Linked DNA regions of Homo sapiens: region 2 is linked to region 1. Evidence: fine-mapped expression QTL. A gene starts in region 1. The other region holds a variant in brackets. All regions are shown on one strand. Distances are from middle to middle. Region 1 holds the start of KIAA0232. Region 2 overlaps KIAA0232.

Evidence for each region. PIP is the estimated chance that this variant, and not a neighbour inherited with it, causes the effect.
Region 2: its variant is the best candidate, but not a certain one, in a credible set for the expression of KIAA0232 in whole blood (TOPMed, PIP 0.76).

The regions. Positions count from the first base shown.
Region 1 is chr4:6,776,732-6,786,377 of GRCh38, reverse strand. It overlaps KIAA0232, which reads right to left and starts at 3,651. Exons shown (of 10, transcript NM_014743.3): 1 at 3,537-3,651. RefSeq lists silencers at 2,562-3,331, 3,392-4,271.
Region 2 is chr4:6,849,226-6,859,597 of GRCh38, reverse strand. KIAA0232 reads right to left here. Exons shown (of 10, transcript NM_014743.3): 5 at 2,368-2,434; 6 at 1,092-1,173. Among named protein-coding and RNA genes, the nearest start is that of TBC1D14, 55 kb to the left of the region's middle. The variant A/G (reference allele first, on the strand shown) is at 7,265.

The DNA.
Region 1 (9,646 bases):
TGAGCCACGATCACACCACCGCACTCCAAGCCTGGGTGACAAAGCAAGATGCTGTCTCAAAAACAAACAAACTTTATTTGCAGACTTAAGCCAGGGTCAGAAAAAATAAAAATAAATATACTTTATAATATTAACATACTCTTTAAGGTTGATTACAGACTTTGACTTTATTTAGCAAACATTTAAACACTTACATTTAACATTAAGCACTTATGTTTAAACGCCTGAGCAAGGTGTTGGGGGCAAAATGATAGGATAGACACCACAGCCAGAGTTTACTATGACCAATTTATAATACAACATGATATAGACAATAATGAAGGAAAAATAGAGAACTATGATTGAGGAAAGGAATAATTCATTGTAATAGGACTTCCAAAGGACTCCAGAGAGAACAGAATATTTGATATGAACTTTTAAGAACTGGAGGGAGTGGGAGTGAGACAGGACATTCCAATAAGAGAAAAGAATATAAGCAAAGAAGGTCTGAAATAGCTTGGCATGTTCAGAGAACCAAGAGCAGTCTTGTTTAGCTGGACAGTGTGGAAAGGGGACAAAGAGGACAAGATAAAGTACAGAGATGACTGGGGGCCAGACTGCAAGGGGCCTGCATTGTGATGCTGGTATCTCTGAATTCTAAGCTCCAAACCACAGGCAGTCTTAGAAGCCTACTGAGCCAGAGACTGACAAGATCTGAGCTCAGGAAAGATGACTCTGGCAGCCAGGCAAAGAATGGATAGGAAGGGGTGGCGAGGAGCCTGAAGACAAAGTTAAAAACTTTAAGCAAAGCAAGTAATCTGAGGTTTTAACACTTACACTAGGCGAGTATTTTTAAAGGGTTTGAGTCTTGACGACATTTCACGTCTTCCCTCAAGTGATCATCCCAACTATTCTGTGAAACAGGTGTCATCAATCTTCCCATTCTACAGATGAGGAAATTAGCTCACAAGCCATTAACTGCCAAGTCAAATGCTACAAAAACAAGGACAAAGCGCAGGCTCAGCACTTTTCCACACAATGAAAAATAAAGAACAAGAACAATCTAATTTCTTTTGAAGAGTGCTACCGTACAACATAGCACAGAGTAGGCTAGCTACATTACCCTATATTACCACTGGAAGTGTTAAAAATCCATCTAATCAGCCAGGCGCGGTGGCTCACGCCTGTAATCCCAGCACTTTGGGAGGCTGAGGCAGGCGGATCACGAGGTCAGGAGAGAAAGACCATCCTGGCTAACACGGTGAAGCCCCATCTCTACTAAAAATGCAAAAAATTAGCCGGGGGTGGTGGCATGCACCTGTAGTCCCAGCTACTCGGGAGGTTGAGGCAGGAGACTCGCTTGTACCCGGCGGGCGGAGGTTGCAGTGAGTGAGCCGAGATCGCGGACTCCAGCCTGGGCGGCAGAGCGAGACTCCGTCTCAAAAAAAAAAAAAAAAAAAATTCATCTGATCTTCTTAAATGTTTGCAACTTGCATAACAAGCTAATTATCCTTAGATTTGACTTCTGTTAACGTCATGTTAAAGACCTATACTTTTTCTCCAAAGCAAACAAAAAAGCACCTGCACTTTGAATTCTACTTCCTATGGAAATAAATAAGAATAATATTCTCCCTTCCCTTCAATGTTTAAAAACTGGCATTTCACTGATGTAACGGGCTTACATAAAAACCATTATACCCAAGGAAGCTGTAAACCACTTTTTGAATGATTAAAAATGCATTATTTAGCAAGTACAGCAATTGAATCTGAGTTATAAGATATATTAAGTGAAAGGAGCTTCTATAGATATGCAAAGGCACACTCTCGGAAATAGGTTCTGTCATAAGGAAGCGACATAGAGATCCTGAGACCTATTTAAGAATGGTTCAATCCAAAATAACTGATGGAAGAATATTTGACCTTGAGGATGCAGAGTGATAGAATCCGCTCCTCCTCCCCCCCCGCCCTCACCCGCCTTTAAATTCTAAGTCCACGAAATGGTCAAAGTGTTCTGGAACGGGTCTTATTTTGCATAGGAAGAATCTAGCTTGGGCATTTTACCGCACAGTTTTATCCACAGCATCGCCTATTACCAAAACTGCTTGTCCCTACCCCCTCACGAGCTTTCTAACAGTTTTTAAAACAAGACCCAGAAATGTAAAATCCCTTCTTAGGAACTTGAACAGTAAGTCAAAGTATCCAACCCAGGTAATTATTAGCAAGAACTACATTTATATAATTTTTTCCAAAGAATCTCGCATGCCTCCTCTCCGCTGAATCTCCCTCCTGTTTTTAACTGGGTTAAATCTTTATAGCTTGCCTATAGAGGACAAAAACGGAAAGGTGGCAAAAAAGAAATCAAGACAGTTCTGCCATGATTTAGGGGTCTGTACCAAGAGTTCGGCAGGTCCTGTCACCTGCGCACCACAAGACGCAAGCTGAATTCTAGGGCAAGACGAAGCATTCCAACACGACACACACTGGTTTCTCCAGCGGGAAGAAGCAGAGAGCTCTAGAAATGCCGGCTGCAGACGCGTATTGTTGGAAAGGAGCCGGATCAGGCCCCGCAGCAACTCGGGGCGCCCTCGCGACAGGGTTTGCCGCGCAGCGCACGGATGACTGTGGGCCTGTCACTCCTAGCTCCAGCTGTAACCTTCGCCAAACCTTGCGCCGCACCGGCCCCGCCCGCCAGGCCCGCCCCCCGCGCCGCGCCCCGCGCCATAGGCCGGCGCGCCAGTCGCTCAGCCGGCCTCCCGGCCCCGCCCGCCTGCGGCCCTCCTCCCCCGCCCGGCGGTTTTCCCTTCCCGGGGCCCCAAAAGGACAATGCTGGAGGGGAGGGGAACGGAGGGAACGCGAGCGAGCGGCCCAGGCTGCCGGCCTGACCCCGCTGCCGGGGACGCCGGGCGCCTCCCACCGGCCGAAGCCTTCCTCCCGCGCCCACTTTCGGGGCTCTACGTCCTATCAAGTCTAAGCACCCCCGCCTCGTCTCCCCTAGAAGAGCCGCCCCGGCGCGGCGACACCTGCCCCAGGCAGGAGGCAGCCAACGGCAACCCATTGTGCGGACTCATCGTCCACAGCCCACCCGGGCGCAAGAGCCGCAAGCTGGTGTCCCGGCGTCCTGGGGTCGGGGCGGGGGTCCCAGGGCCCACAGCTCACCCGCACGCCCGGGCACCACCAGGATCGGGGCCGGTCAGGCCTCCCTCGGCTGGCCCCGGAGCCATCAACAGCGGCCCGGTCTCCCTTAGGCTGGCCCCGGAGCCATCAGCGGCGGCCCGGCCTCCCTCAGGCTGGCCCCGGAGCCCCCGGCGGCGGCCCGGTCTCCCTCAGGCTGGCCCCGGAGCCCTCGGCGGCGGCTCGGCCTCCCTTAGGCTGGCCCCAGAGCCCACGGCGGCGGCCCTGTCTCCCTTGGGCTGACCCCGAAGCCTTCGGCTGCGGCCCGGCCTCCCTCGGGCTGGCCCCGGAGCCCCACGGCGGCGAGCGTCCGGCCTCCCCGGCCCGCGCCCACCCGGCCGAGGGGCTGCTCCGCGCCCTCCCTCCCCGCCGCCTGCCCGCAGTACCTGCCGAGGCTGCCGGGCGGCGCGGCGGCCGGCGGGGGCGCCTCTCCTCTGGCTCCGAGGGGCTGCGGGCGGCTGCCGAGCGCCGGGCGGCCCTGGCCTGCGCCTTACGTAAAGCGGCGGCGGCGGCCCCAGCGCCACTCCGCGGAGGGCGGGAGGCGGCGCGCCGGGAGCCGCTCCGCTCCGTTACCCGGCAACTGGCCTCAGCGCCCCGCCAACCAGGGGCGCGCTCCATATCCTTCCGCCCGGGTGCCGGGATTACATCAGCGCCGGCCGGTCCCCGCCCCTGCCCCTCCCTCCGGCTGGGCTGCGGGCGCGCGCGGGCGGTGGGCCGCGGGCTGACGGCGCGAGGGGACAGGCCGGGGCTGGTGCCTGGCGGGTGGGGGTCTAGGGCCCGGGACGCGCCGTGCAGCTTGGCCGGGGCGGCGGAAGCCGCTGGGAGGTGAGAGGGCAAGCAGTAGAGAGGGCAGGCAGGAAGCGGGAGCCCCCCAGCGTGCTGGGCGTCGGAGAGGAGACGTCTCCCGCGGAGGGGCACGTGGGACTGCCCTCGGCAGAAGCCCCCGAACTCTGCCGCCGCGCCCCGCCCCCGGCCCGCGCTGGGGAAGTGGGGCTCGGCGTGCACGGCCCCGCCCGCGGCCCGGTGCAGCCCCCGCCTTCCCGGGCTCGCGCGCCACCTGTCCGCGCCCCCTCCTCGCCGCGTCCTGGGATGGCTGGAGTAGGCGGCTTAAAATAAAGACTTTAATTTTTTGTTGTTGTTGTTAAGGAACCCAGAAGACAAGCTAAAGAAATGTGACATGGCTCTTTTTTTATTAACTAGGCAAAAATAAATTCTGGAAGCTTCGAAAGTGGAAACCAAAAATGTGCATTAACCTTTTAATCAAAGTGTCTTCACAGCCACCTACCTTCCCTAAATGTGACTCCTAGGCCTGTTCTAAAAAAGCAAATAAGTATCATGGACCTGGAAAAGGAAGGGAGATTACTTAGAAGAAAGAGGTCCAATGGGAGGAGTGACTTACCTGGGGTCATTTGTTCATTTATGCAGCACCCACTAGGTGCCAGGCACTATGCTTTTCTGTTCAGAACCTGTTGGAGAATTTCCTGCACCAGCTCACGGGCTTGTGGGAGAAGCAGATGCTGAAACACTGGAGAGGGGTCATCTGCTGAGTTGGCTAGATGCTCCATGCATCCATGGAAGGACAAACCGAGGAACTGTCGCTTACGTACTATCTACAGAGTGTTTTTTCTGCGAACATATCTTTTTGTTCTTTACAAAAATCGTGGGACAAATCTTTGTCATCCGCATTTAACTGGTGAGGAAGCTGAGGCTGAAAGAAAGTGATTTCACCCAAGCCTGGCTGCTACCGAGTGGACAGGGCCTTCTGACCTTGCTAAACCACCTCTTGCAGGAGACAGAATGTGAACCCAGGCTCCTGGCTCTGAAATATGGGGTTTCGTTTCCTTTACACTACTGTCTCCCTTAACCAGTTTGCTTCTAATTGTATTCTCTGAGCATTCGCTCAGGTGAATGTATATCGTCATAAATCACACGTTCATTCAGTCAGTTTCTTCTGAGTGCTTGTTGTGGACCTGGCTCAGTGCCGGGAACGCACAGTCCCTGTGCTCCTGGAACTCAAACTCTAAAAACAGTGTCGAGAATGGAAAGGGTATGGGAAATCCAGGGCCACTTGGGAGTAGAGGAGGGGAGAGTAGCAGAGCTTCAGAGCCTAGTTCACAGGTGCCTCCAGGCTCCAGGATTTCACAGACCAAAGTATGGGGGATTTGCAAAGGATGGTCAGCTTTTGATTTTTGCTACATTGGTGACATATCTGTCATCTACATCATATTTTACAAAAGAGTATTAACAGCAAAATTTTTTGAAAAGTAATAACAGTATATCTCAGTTCTGAAGAAAGGAAACACGGTTGGCACCTGTATAGTGACACACACACACACACACACACACACAGAGTTTATTGACCTTTTTTTTTATTACTTTGCCACAGACCAGTTTTTATACTAGTTCTACCATGAACTAGTAGAACCTGAAGACTTCTTGGAAGAAGAGGTTTTTAAGTAGGAATTATCTTGTATTAATAGGATTTGGAGCTGGTGGGGAAAGATGACAGATTAGGGAAAGAAAGTGTCTTGTTTACTTTGTTTTCTTAACAAAATAGCCTCCTGTCCTCCAAATTATTTTGATAAAAATCCTAGGAGTCTCAGCTGACTCCAACCTTAGGGCCTTTGCATCTGCTGATTTCTGTGAGGAACTCCCTCCCCAGACCTCTGCGTGGCTGGTTCCTTCTTGTTAAAGGCCCTGCTACGATGTCACCTGCCCAGAGACATCTAGATGCCCAGTTTGGAGTAGCCAACCTTCCCAGTCATGATGCCACTGCTATATTTTGTTTCTTTATTCACAGCTCTTATCAGTATCTGAGATCATCTCGTTTGTATGTTTGTTTCCTCATTCATCTCAGCCTCCTCACTCAAGACCTGTATCTCACAAGAGCAGGCATTTTGCCTGTGGTGCTTATTTTCATATGCCCAGAGCCCAGCACGGAGCCTGCCAGTTTGTAGGTGCAGGACTGAACTATCATCTGTGATGTAGTCAGAGTGCACATCAGGGAGAAAACAATCCCACCTTCCCTTGAGCAATCAGGAACAGGGCTCTTCTGCATGAGCCCCTTACCCCCTGTAGTGTGCCACGCTGCCTACGACCTTCCTTCAGGCTCCCGGGTAGAGATCAGCCAACTTAAACTCAGGAGAACAGTAGCTTTCTCCCTCTTGTGGGCTAAGATCCCTAGGGAATGCAAATGAGGCCAGAGGACTCCTGCGTTAAGGCAGGGTTGGTGTGGAGGCGGTAGACTCCCCCTTCAGCATTTTCTGAGAAGAAACCATTGTCTCCTGTGTATGTCTGAGATCATTCATTTCATTTCTCTAGTCTCAGGAGCACCTGCCACAGCTTTTTAACCCCTACAGCCGGGTAAGGCAATGCTGGAGGAAGCTGACGACTCTGAGTGCCCTCTGACTTGGATGTTCGATGCTAGCGAGGATTCTAGCAGCTGCCATCTGGGGCAGTGATTGTGTAATGTGTATGCTTAGTGAACAGCAGGGATGAGGCTGGGTCCGGGATGCTTTGTGATGTCGTGTGGCACACGGACTGACGGCAGGCAGGGGCCAGGCCTCTTCGACTCTGTGATCTTGGGTACATAATCTCCCTCTCTGGGCCTCAGTTTCCCCATCTGCACAACAAGGGACTTGGGCAGGAAGATTTCAAAAATCTCCTTTGTTCTGTGCCTGTGTGTGTGTGTGTGTGTGTGAGAGAGAGAGATTTAGAAACAAAATTTCAATGAAGCTACACTTTGATAAATGATATACAAATCCTCACCTGTCACCTGACACGAGCAATGCCAGCTCCTGTTTACTGACCCCCAGGTGCATGCCAAGTGCTTTGCTCACATTGTCCTTAACTCCCACAATACCAGGCAGGGAAGAGATGATCCCCATTTTGCAGCCACAGAAGCCAAGGCTTCTCTGGAGACTTAGGTGGCTTGCACAGGCCACACTGCTACTAAAAGGCAGCACCAGGATTTCATTTTAGCCCTGTGCTTGCTACTGGGCCACACAGTATCATTAAAATCCATCCTGAGATGACTTTTAAATGAATGAGGCCAAGATAAAACCCTGACCAGATAATCTCCCCATTGCCTCCCCATGGGACCAAGACCCTCACTTGGGATACTAACTAGGCATCTCAGTTCAGATGCTGTCAGTCAAGGTGGCCCACATCATGGCCTTCTCTCTTAACCACCCCAGGCCTGCACCCGCATTCTGACAGCCTCTCCTCTCAGTGGCTCTCCTCTCTTAGGGGTAGTAACATCATTCCAGGCCTAAAGAGAGTTCAAGCCTCTGGCATAGCCCCATGGTCTGACCTTGAGCAAGGCCCTGACCTTCTGAGGGTTTCGGCTTCCTAGTGCAGGAAAAGACAGAGGAATAACGCCTTGTTCCGCTTGCCTATCCCTGTAGGGCCAAACCAGATCAGAGGTGTGGTTGTCTCCTGCTTCCAAATTTGTTCCTCACTTCTATCCCTCCACCCAGTCCATGGAAAATCAACAACGTCATCAGCAATGTCACCAGAAGTAGGGGAGCACGGTGATTAAGCACACTGGCTGATTAGCTCACTGATGTGGGTAAATTACTTAGCCTCTCAGTTTCCTCATCTGTAAAGTGGGCATAATAATAATAGTATCTGCCTCAGAGGGTTGCGGTGAAGGGGTAAGTGAATCCACACAGAGGGTACCCGGCACACAGCAAACACTCAATAAATACCAGCACCCACGACCATCCCTCCTTGAAGCCCCCACTACTTAGCTCTGACTGCCCATCTCCAGGACCCCCTCTTCCTCTGTCCCTCCCATTCCCTCCTTTCTTATCCCTCCTTTCTTATACCTCCTTTCTTATCATTCTGCATACCACTAGGGCAGTCTCCTCCACTCCAGTAGCTGTTAAGTAACATGAAAATGGAAGGACACCTAATATCTCTCCCCTACCCCAGCTTTTCTCCAAGGCCCAGAACCGCCTCCTGGGCTTGTCCGCCTTGCTGGTGGGACCCTCCCCAGCCCCCAGCATGTTCCTGGCTGACTCACTGCCTTTCCACACAGGGGCCCCTTCCCTCATCGCTCTATTTACAGCATCACCCTCTCCCTGGCTGCCTGAGCTAGAGTCCTAGTGCACCGACCTGGTGAATTTGTTTCAGAGATGACCTTGCAGCCAGACTGAGCTCAAACAGACTTGGGTTTGAGTCCAGCGCAGCCATGTGGCACAGTGAAACCTTGAACAAGTTACTTCCTCTCTCCGAGCTGGCTCGCATCTCTCTAAAATGCACACAATGGGCGGACCCTCCAGCAGTGAACACTCATCTTTTGATCCATCTGCCAGTATATGAAGCCCCTTCTTATGTTTGGTGAATCCCTGTCCCTTTTGGGATTCACCCAAGCAAAGAAGGCTTCCCTACACGGAGCCTGAAGGCCAGACCCTGACCCGACCTCCCTCCTGGCTTCCGACTTACTGTCATCATTATAACCACACAAACCGTTCCCGGGGCTGCTTCTGCATTGCCCAGAAGTACCCTGCATCTGGACAATTAGCATGTGAAGGAATTGGAAATGATTATTTAGTTATAGGTGTGAGCCACTGCACCCAGCCGGGAACGATTTTGTCAAATTTAATCAATATATGGACGTATGTTTTGGCGGCCAACATTCAACCCACTATACTTAAACATCTTCTGTGGTAATAAAATAGCACAACACCCACCCCTCTGTGTCAACTGACTCACTCCTTCCTTCCTTCCTCCCTCCCTCCCTCCCTCCTTCCTTCCTTCCTTCTTGCTTTTTTTCTTATGCTCTCTCTCTTTCTTTGACAGGGTCTGTGTCGCCCACATTGGAGTGCAGTGGTACAATCATAGTTCACTGAAGCCTTGTAGTCCTGGGTTCGAGTAATCTTCCTGCCTCAGCCTCCAGAGTAGCTGGGACTATAAGTGTGCCACCACACCCAGCTGATTTTTAAAAATTCTTTTAGAGAAGACGGTGGGGGGGTCAGAGGCACCGGGGATGTGGTCTCCCTCTGTTGCCCAGGCTGGTGTTGAACTCCTGGCCTCAAGCAGTCCTCTCACTTTGGCCTCCCAAGGTGCTGGAATTGCTGGCATGCACCACCATGCCCACCTGATTTTTTTCTTCTTAGCGCTAATCAACACGTGCTGCGTCATATACGTATTTACCTATGGCTTTGCTCCCCCTTTAACTGTAAGTTCCAGGAAGACAGGCAGGGCTCTGTCTACTTGTTCACTGCTGCCTCCTCAGCTCCTAGAACGGGGCGTCACACACAGCAGGTGCTCAAAATTCATATATATTGAATGCATAAATAAAGATCAGACAGTGCTGAAGATTTACAGCCCTATTTGGGTCATTCCTAAAACACAGGATTGCCAGTAACAGCCAATGATGCTACAGTGTTTATAGGGAAAACGGATATAAATGATAGCTATTAAAATGGATATTATATTTATGTCGACATGCCATAATTATTTCATACTCTGAGGGCAATGGCAGGAAGCT
Region 2 (10,372 bases), 73 kb before region 1:
TAGGTGAAATGCACTCCAGTAATATATTTAACTAAACTCCTGATATTATCATTTCAACATGTAATCAATACTTTAAAATGTTTAATACTTTACTTTTTTTTATATATAGTCTTTGAAATCCAATGAGAATTGTCCACTGACAGCACATCACGGTTTGAACCAGCCCCATTTCAAGTGCTCAGTAGTCACACATGGCTTACAGCTTCTGTGCTGGATAATACAGGTCTATACAAACCAAGGAAATGCTATTTTTTTCTTAGGTTTCAGAGGTTCGAAAGATTAAAATAAAATGTATAATAGGGAAGTCTGTTTATAATGCAGATTATTTTAAGACTATTTACGAACAAAAAAATAAAAGTATCTTTAGGAAGCAGGTTTGGCAGGTCAAGGATTGCCTATGTTCCCTCTGCAGTAAACAGTGGGAACTCAGTGTTCTTGCTTGTGAACATGGATAATCATTTCTTTTCTTTCTTGTTTTTTTTTTTTTTTTTTTTTTTAATAAGACAGAGTCTCGCTCTGTCGTCCAGGCTGGAGTGCAATGGCACAGTCTCAGCTCACTGCAACCTCTGCCTCCCGGGTTCCAGAAATTCTCCTGCCTCGGTCTCCTGAGTAGCTGGGATTACAGGCATGTACCACCATGCTCAACTAATATTTGAGACTGGGTTTCACCATGTTGACCAGGCTGGTCTCAAACTCCTGACCTCAGGTGATCCACCTGCCTTGGCTTCCCAAAGTGCTGGGATTACTGACATGAGCCACTGTGCCCGGCTGATAATCCTAATTTCTCACAGCTGTCTCAAAGGGCTGTTGTGAATATTAAAGGTAATAGTACATACATAGACTTAGCAAATAATAACCTTCTATGTTTCACTCATTTGTTCCACAAATATTGAATATGAACACCAAGGACAGAACCATCTTGTTTCACCTTTGAATTCTCAGTGTCAAGCATATAAGCGCTCGATAAATGTTTCTTACATTATATATAATGAAACTAAACAAGATGACAAACAGAAAACGGAAACCATGTAGCAGTTATTCATCTGATTTTAACAAATGCACACTTTATTACCGAATACAATCTTACATACATTTCCACTTGATCCTTTGCTGGAGGGGATAATTCTGCCTCTGGAGAGGGAGACCCCTCTAACTTTTTGTGAATCTTCTCTTCTGTTATGAAACAAAAATTAAGAAAGATTTGTCTTATATCTAGTTAATAAATGCTAATGTATTTCAAAGTTTCTCAACTAATTTTAACAAGAAATAGAGACTTTGGTGCTTAAAAGGCAAACTCAATACCGATCTTTTTAATAAAAATCTATTTTTTCAGTGTGCCAGAGGGAATTCTCCGATTAAACCACATTAGCATTAGGCCAAGAGGTGAGAGTTGTTCATCTCGTCACTGATACAGTGCTCTAGAGGCACTTAATTAAGAGACTGAAGTCCCCTGTGTACTTATTAATTAGACCAGAAGGACAGAACATCTGTTTAGATTCCAAAACTATTTTCTCACAAAATTCTACACTCATAGACTTTACATTGACTCATCTTGACCAAAACTAATCTGTAAAGAATATTCTTTATTACAATTTGCTCTATTACTTAACATGTAGGTGAGCAAGGGCTATTTCAACTGAAACAGGAAAAAGGGCTATCCCTTAGTTTAGCCTAGGATACTGCCTTAGGTTACAAATCAACTGTGCCCTTAAGAGGCAGGCTCAAGGCTTGGTGGGCAGCAAAATGACCATAAAGAGGGCAAGGAAACAAGGATCCTCACCCTTAATATGAAGGTCTCGTTCTTAGGGATTGCAAACAAGTTAGAAAAAGTATGAGGAGGATTCATATATCGAAATAACTAAATAAGCTTGCCAAGTCTGTGTTTTCAAAAAAGCTGAGTCAAAACAGAAGTCCCTTCCAAACCTGAAGTAATTCATGTCTTAACATCTTAATTTAATGTCGTAATTTAGCAGTCTTAACATCAACAGGCAGATATTAACAGAGGGGCAAGGATGGGGAAAGGAAAGAGACAATATTGTTCCTGATCTCTGAGCTTCAACTTGAAGCCAACAACAATTAAAAAAACCCAAAAAACAGAAAACCATGAAGTGTTTCCTATCTCTGAGGGCACCTGTGGACTAAGTCCCTCCCTTGGTTGCAGGAATCTCTATGAGTGACTGCTGGGTCTGACACAGAAGCCACTAACAGAGCTGCAGATGGAGCATGAGGCTGGCCTAGTGACACACACTGGACACAAAGACTTTGTTCTGGTTGTTTTCTTTTCTGATCAATTCTAAGATTTTCCCCAATCCAGATTCCTCAGGGATGTAATCCTGGCATGTGTGCGCACAGTGCTTTTGACCTCACCTTGCTTACTCTGAAGGTCTTTCAGTCTGGAGCAGAGCTCCTCCACTAAAGTCTCGATACCAGAGCTCTGCATGACAACAAAAAGACACATTAGGTTACAGCCAGGTATGTACAAATCAGGTATTTGTATACTTTTGTTTTAATACACAGGTTTTACAAATCATCCACATTCCAAAATAAATATCTTACCAATATTTACGTGAATACTACAGTTTAAAAATTATAGGTTTGTAGATACAAATTGGTATACATGCTTATTACTAATAAGGCATATTAAATGAAACTTAGTGATAAAATGTGAACATATTCATGTACCTCCCAGAATAGCTTCTGTTTTTCCAAAGGTGTGTCATCTTGCTCATGGGGCAGATTTAAGGGCCTAAATGTCCATCATACGACCAAAAGTCAGTCACCATCAAAAAGAGTATTAAATATTTATGTGAGCGAGATCTTATACCAGACTTAAAACAAAGGAAAATCACAAAACCTCATCTTAGTTCTCTAGGAGCTCACACCCTGAAGAAAACAAGGTGATTTTTTTTTTTTCTGTTTTAAAGAAACATGAACACTCATGATTAAAACAACAGAAGTCCAGAAAATGAAGCCAATATTGCAAATGTGAAAGCTTTGTCTTCTTTTCAGCATCTGGACCAGATTATCGACTTCTATACAAAGCTTGGGAGTTTAAAATTTAAGGAGAGTACATAGAAGAGTCTGGATTTGGGAGGGTAAAAATAAGAGTCAACCTTTAAAGAAAAATGAATGTAGAAAACAGGCACAAGCAAATAATCTTTCATTAGTAGACTTTAACTTTTAAGAGTCTCAATTTCTCACAGGAAGAAAAAAAAATTTTTTTACAGTGGACAAAAAAAGTCAATGTATTTCTCAGAAACTTTAGATTTATTCAGTGACCAAAGTCCTATTTAAACTGGAATCAAGTCCTTATTGGTGGGCATAACCCAAACAGATGCGCGTGATGGAGAGTTCTGCTAAGCCAGTGCCCTCACTAGGCCTTGACGGGCTAAAAATAGAACTTTACCCCATTCACTTAACTCAAAATGACTCAGCACAAATATTATAGATATCCTACATAAGAAATCCCACGGTTACACAGTTTGAGTAGCAAGAAACAGATTACAATGAAAACAGTTAATTGTAAACATCTAGAGTTACATTCTGTCCACGTCATACCACAGGTTTTAATAGGAAGATAGAAAAATAGGCCAGACAAGAGTTGCCCTTTCCTTTAAAAACACTCTTAAAAACGATGGCAGATATTAGTCATAAACACTGTTCAACCACAAACAGTTGCACCAGAAAGCACCTGCTTACCATAATGCTCAAGGTGTGACAAGGACGGCAATTATATTCCATTTCCTTCGGATCGTGAAACCAACACCAGTGTCAGCTGACACACTGCATACTGTTCTGTACAGCAAGCCTATGTCACTAGGTTTCTAAACCTAGGGCTAGTCTCGCAATGCAGAACACTGAACCTCTAGGGATCACTTATTAAACGTCTTCCAATACTCTAAAATGGGGTCCCATTTAATCAGAATGGTCATTACAACCTAGTGACTACGTATTTTTTCATGCTTTGTCTTAGAAATTAATTACATATACACACATATATTTATTAATATATGAGTAAATATGTATACTATATGAGTGATATATATATATTTGCTGTCATATATAAACATATATTTTTTTTGCTCTCATGTTTAAACAGCAAAATAAGAGCTTACTCCTTACTCTCTGTGTAAAAGCAAGCTCTACCAACCAGGTTTTTCTGTTCTTTTCTTGACTACCTGTAGCATCTTATATATTTTTTTAAAAAATCAGCTGGGCGCAGCGGCTCACACCTGTAATCCCAGCACTTTGGGAGGCCAAGGTGGGTGGATCACTTGAGGTCAGGAGTTCAAGACTAGCCTGGCGAACATGGTGAAACCCCGTTTCTACTAAAAATACAAAAAAAATTAGCTGGGCGTGGTGGCAGGCACCTGTAATCTTAGCTACTTGGGAGGCTGAGGCAGGAGAACTGCTTGAACCCAGGAGGTGGAGGTTGCAGTGAGCTGAGATCGCGTCATTGCACTCCAGCCTGGGCAACAGAGCGAGACTCGGTCTCAAAAAAATAAAAAAAAATAAAAAATAAAAAATAAAAAATCATGAGAACCCTGGGTCACCATCACAGCAAGCTGGGAAGCATAGAGGCACAGCAGAAGCTGTCATCACCCTTTGTTGTCTCCTGGCAGGTGTTCCAAAGTGTTAATTTACAGTTTTAATGAGAAATTTTTATTCACTTTCCCAATTATATAAACCATTAGAAAATATTAATAATCAAATTTCAGTAGCATAGCATATCCATAAGGCCATTCAATAATATTTTGAGAGCCTATAGTATCTTAAAAAACAAAGAAAGATTAAGTTATATCTTAATAACAACTCTAAGGAAGCACAAGCTATAGGTGAAAAAAATGCTACCATTCCACCACTGAACTCATGAATTGCTTTTCCTAACTGTAAAATGGATAATATCCACCCATCTTCCAGTATCCAACACATGTAAAACACTCTGCAAACCGTTAAGAGCACTCTAAAATTCAAATTACAGTACTCCAAACCTGCAAAGTGGCGAGCCACATACAGACGCTGGCAAGTTTCAGGACACGCTCAGTGAGCAACCCTCAGAATGCATGGACAGCCAGCCACTAGTTTACCATGCACTGGCTCATTCACGCACCCAGTGAACAAATGGTTATGACGACCCCTGTCCTCCTGAGATTTACATGATAATCACTCTAATTTCTCTGAGAAGAGGACTCAGTGGAATGTATTTGGGTTTGGGGCTTGGAGTCATGCTGGCCTGGGTCTGAATTCTTGCCCTGCTACATTCACTGGGCAGCAAAGGGCATGTGTGCCACTTCCTCTTTCTGGACCCAAGAATGCCACCACTTCCCTCCCAAGATTCAGTAAAAAAAAGCTAACATGACACATGTGAGGCATCCAGAGTCCCTGTCACCTTAGTCACTTAAATGTTGGTGTCATTTCTAGATTTTGTACGTCTTTAATTTTCTACAATCTTGTTTTTTGATTCATCACTTCAAAAATGTCTTTAATTTTTGCTATGATTTGATTTTGAGGTTGGAGGAGTAAAAAGATAATTAACCTAATGCATACCACCAAAACCCCTCTGGATTCTCCCTGGACTTCATGGCCTGCTCCTTCTCTCTCTGACCAACGCTAGGTTCTTGCTACTGCTACACTCTCTGCTCCTGGCTGTGGGGTGGGGTTGAAGAGTTAAATGATGATGGAGACTGAGCCTTGGTCAAACACAGCAACTGGTGTCCTATTACTTCATGAGGGTCTTATTTGTTCCCTGACAAATTCCTATCACTTCCCATCCCTACAACATTTCCAGTATTTCTCCATCTTCTCCATACTTCCCATCCTTCTCAACTTGGACCTTAGTTATTAAGCGTAAAGTAAAAGAAAGGCAATTTGACTTATTCTGCCTCATCTCTCCTCTCCATACTCAAAGGTTTCTGTGCCATATTAATCATCTTACAGGTTTCTCTTTTATGGAGGGTTCATTTAGACTGGATATTCCCTAAATGCTGGACAGGTGCCGCCATAGTGTGATCACTAACCTACATGATACTCAGTGTTAACTGCCTGTTCCATTTGCACATGGCTCAATGGAGTCAAAGAGATCTGGTTCTAAATTTCACCCCAGGGTTAACCACATGACCCTACATAAATCATTTACCTATCAAAGCCTCAGTTTCTACATCTGGAAAAGGGTGCTAGTATTATGGACACATTTCCTAATAGCTGGTTACTGAATTTCCTGTACTGGTCCCCTAATTTCTTTTGTCACCTGTTTACCATTTCTTCATCTTTTTGTTCTACTTTCTGGAAGATTTCCAGAGCTGCCTTCCAAACCGTCTATTGAGTTTTTCATTTCTATTATCATGGTTATAATTTTTAAAGGATCATCTCATCCCTCAAATGTTTCTTCTTTCCAGCAACCTCTTCCTCGTTAAGAAATCTTCCACACTTCTATCTTTGGAAGATAAACCTATTTGTCAGTCAGGCACCAGAAAGGGATGGGGGAATCAGTCAGTCCCCAATTTTCATTATGGTGTCTCATGCTTTGCCTCAGGGGTGCCTAGTATCCCAAAGTCCAGAAGCTGTCTACTTAATCTCTCCAGAAAGTAACTGTCAGAGGAAAGGCTGTTACTCTGGGGCCCCCAATGAACTGTGCCTCCCTGCACTTGCCCCTAGGTTGGGCCCCTCCCACAGTGACTGGGTTTCACAATAAGATGTTGCCGAGTGTGACAGATGCCCTCCTGGAATGCTACCTTCTGAGTGTTCTCCATCTGCCATGTGGTGAAAGGTCACAGCTCCCAGCCATGCTTGCTGAAGCACCAGTCACATGAGGAAAGCAATCCTGGATGTTTCAGCTCCACCTGCCATCACAGACCCCAAGCAAGAACAGCAGAAGAACCTCCCAGCTGAGCCCTAGCTAACTCACAGAATTGTGGGTAAATAGTTGTTTCAAGCCACTAAGTTTTGGGGTACTTAGTCATGTAGCAATAACTGAAGCACAGGCTTTCAAACACTCCTATTTTCAGCCCAGCCCTGCACATGGAGCTCTTTTACAGTTTTTCAGATCTTAGTCTTTAGCTTTAAAGCAGAGTTGGAAGATTAGTGGTAGGAAACCCAACTAGATACTGATAGAATGACTACTGGTGATCATGGTAATCGTTTCACTGGAAAGCAAAGGATCAATTCCATACTTTAATGACTGGAAGTTTTAAAAACCTTTTTAAAATTTAGAATTAAATTAATGTTAAGCAAATAAGCAAAAGAGCACCAACTGAGAAGACTGAGA[A/G]TATGTGCCAGGGGTCACAAACTCATGCCTTCAATAGCCAGAGAAGCAATACAAAGTGAAAAAAAACTCCTCTAAATAAAAAGCTGTTTCTGCCAAGGCCCCTGTATGAGAGCTGTGATTCCTATCCTTGAACACGGAATGGTCTAAAAAAATTGGCCTGTCTCCAGCTCTCATGCACATTTGCTCTCTAGAAAATGATACAGAGTAGGAGAGAAGTATCCAATGGATAAATATCTTCAAACATGATCTAGGGCACAGATTATATACTCTTTAGAATGCTGAAAAAAAAAGAAGGTTAAAGTTTTCAACAAAAAATAGAGGATATCAAACTGTTATAATAATTAAATAATATGACCAATCGAGGCTTAGAAAAAGGTAACCCCGCTCTTTAGCAGGGTGATGTAACATAAAGGGAACATGATCTGGACTTACGAGACCTGCTGTGCTGTGTGAAGCTGGACAAGTTATTTAACTTCTGAGCCTCCATTTCATCATTTTACAAAAAGAGGAAAATACTTCAACTTGAATTAAGTCCTTCAATTTTCTTAGTTCATTATAGCACCTTACTGATTTAGGCAAACCCCTCCCCGCTTTTTTTTTTTTTTTTTTTTAATTTTTGAGATAGGATCTTGCTCTGTCACCCAGGCTGGAGTGCAGTGGTATGATCACAGCTCACCATATCCTTGACCTCCAGGACTCACGTGTTGCTCCCACCTTCTCAGCCTCCCAAGTAGCTGGGGACTCAGGCGTGTGCCACCACACTTGGCTTTTCTTTTGTTTTTTTTTCAGAGATGTGGTTTCTGCAAAACCCCATCTCAAACTGGTTTCAAACTGCCAGGCTCAAGCAACCCACCCGCCTCAGCTTCTCAAAGTGCTGGGATTACAGGCATGAGCCATCGCACCCAGGCAAACCCTATTTTTTATGATATGCAAAAAAGTCCTGTTTCTTACTTTCATATGGAGATGGCAGTTTCTTTTCCCTTTAGATATCTAACAAGTAAACTTCCTGAAGGATATTTGGCTACAGAAGCTCAGAAAGCTATGAGCTGAATGTCTGGATACTACTTGTTTCACTTCATGGTTCAATTAAGAAGAATAGTCACAACTTAGACCAGTTATTTTTAATCTAGGAAGGATGAACTCTTAAGGAGGCCACTAATGGGCATGTAACAAAGTAATTCATATAAGAAAAGTTTAAGTATAACATTCTGGTTAGGGCCATAGCTTTCATCAAATACTCCAGTCTATAAGGCTGACAGTTACAAAAAAACACTGACTTCAGTCAAGGAATCTGATGCCTAAGTATACATGCAAGAAAAAGTACTGTACATACGCACAAGGATAAGCAGGTAAGAATGTTCCTTTCGGCCGAGCATGGTGGCTCACGCCTGTAATCTCAGCACTTTGGGAGGCCGAGGTGGGCGGATCACGAGGTCAAGAGATCGAGACCATCCTGGCCAACATGGTGAAATCCCGTCTCTACTAAGAATACAAAAATTAGCTGGGCGTGGTGGCATGTGCCTGTAGTCCCAGCTACTCGGGAGGCTGAGGCAGAGAATCGCTTGAACCCAGGAGGCAGAGGCTGCAGTGAGCTGACTGAGATAACGCCACTGCACTCCAGCCTGGCACAGAGCGAGACTCCGTCTAAAAAAAAAAAAAAAGAATGTTCCTTTCTACTTTCTTTATTAATAGCCCAAAATGAGAAGCAATTGAAAGGCCCATTACCAGGAGAATAAACAGTGTTACATAGTTCACAATGGAGAACTACTTAGGAACGAAGAATGAAGACATTATAAGATCATGTTAACAATATAGAAAAAATTTTAAAATTTTTAACTAAAAGAAGTTACAAAAATATATAGAGTATGGTATAATTTATAGAAAGTTTAAGAAAATGCAAAATCATGCTGTATTTGTGTACACCTTCAAACAGTATTTAGTAAACATACGAAAATAAGCATGGGAAAGACAAACACCAAGCGGGGTATGATGGTGACCTGAGAGGGATGACCAGGAAAGTCATTAGGAAAGCGTACATGGGTCTCCAGCTGTGCCCCCAACACCTGGCTTCTTCAACTTCAGTGGGCACACAGGGATTCACTGGGCCATCATTTGGCCCTTTCTGGTCCTCAAACTCTTAATCTGTTTTCATACCCCAGCCCCTAACCCCACGCATGTCTATTTTATAGTGCCTCACTCTCAGATTTTTACAGCAGCCCCTTCCACTTCTGTGTCTGCTCTCATATTCTCACTTTTCAACATTTGAAAGATCAGAAAACTTCCTGTTAAAAAATCCCAATTTTCTACCTTTTCTAAAAAGAGATCAGAAGATCTGGGCTAGATTAACAAAAAGAAAATGGGCTATTTCTTGCCTGGTCCTCATAAACCACTCTACCCCACCAACCCTAGACATGCATATTCAGTTTATTCAGCTGCCTGTTCAAAAATCTCCATTTAGCTGTCTCCTAGGAGGCATCTCATATGTTAATCCTTATTCATACCACAAAGATGTTCCTTCCTTAGGTTCCTTTTCCTTAGTAAATAGAAATTACTTTTTTTTTTTTTTGGAGACCGAGTCTCGCTCTGTCACCTGGGCTGGAGTGCAGTGGCGTGATCTTGGCTCCACCGCCTGGTTCAAGCAATTTTCCCACCTCAGCCTCCTGAGTAGCTGGGACTACAGGCATGCACCACCACATCCGGCTAATTTTTTCTTTGTTTGAGATGGAGTCTTGCTCTGTTGCCCAGGCTGCAGTGCAGTGGCACGATCTCAGCTCACGGGAACCTCTGCCTCCTGGGTTCAAGTGATTCTCCTGTCTCAGCCTCCCAGGTAGCTGGGATTATGGGTGGGCGCCACCACGTCCGGTTAATTTTTATATTTTTAGTAGAGACAGGTTTTTGCCATGTTGGCGAGGCTGATCTCAAACTCCTGACGTCAAGTGACCTGCCTGCCTCCCAAAGTGCTGGGATTACAGGCATGAGCCACTGTGCCGGGCCAGGAATTATATTCTTGCAGTTGCTCAGATCAAAACCCTTGGCTGTCTTCCTTGTCTCCTCCCCTTATCTCTACCCCACATCTAATCCTGACAGTTCCATCTTCGAAAACAGATG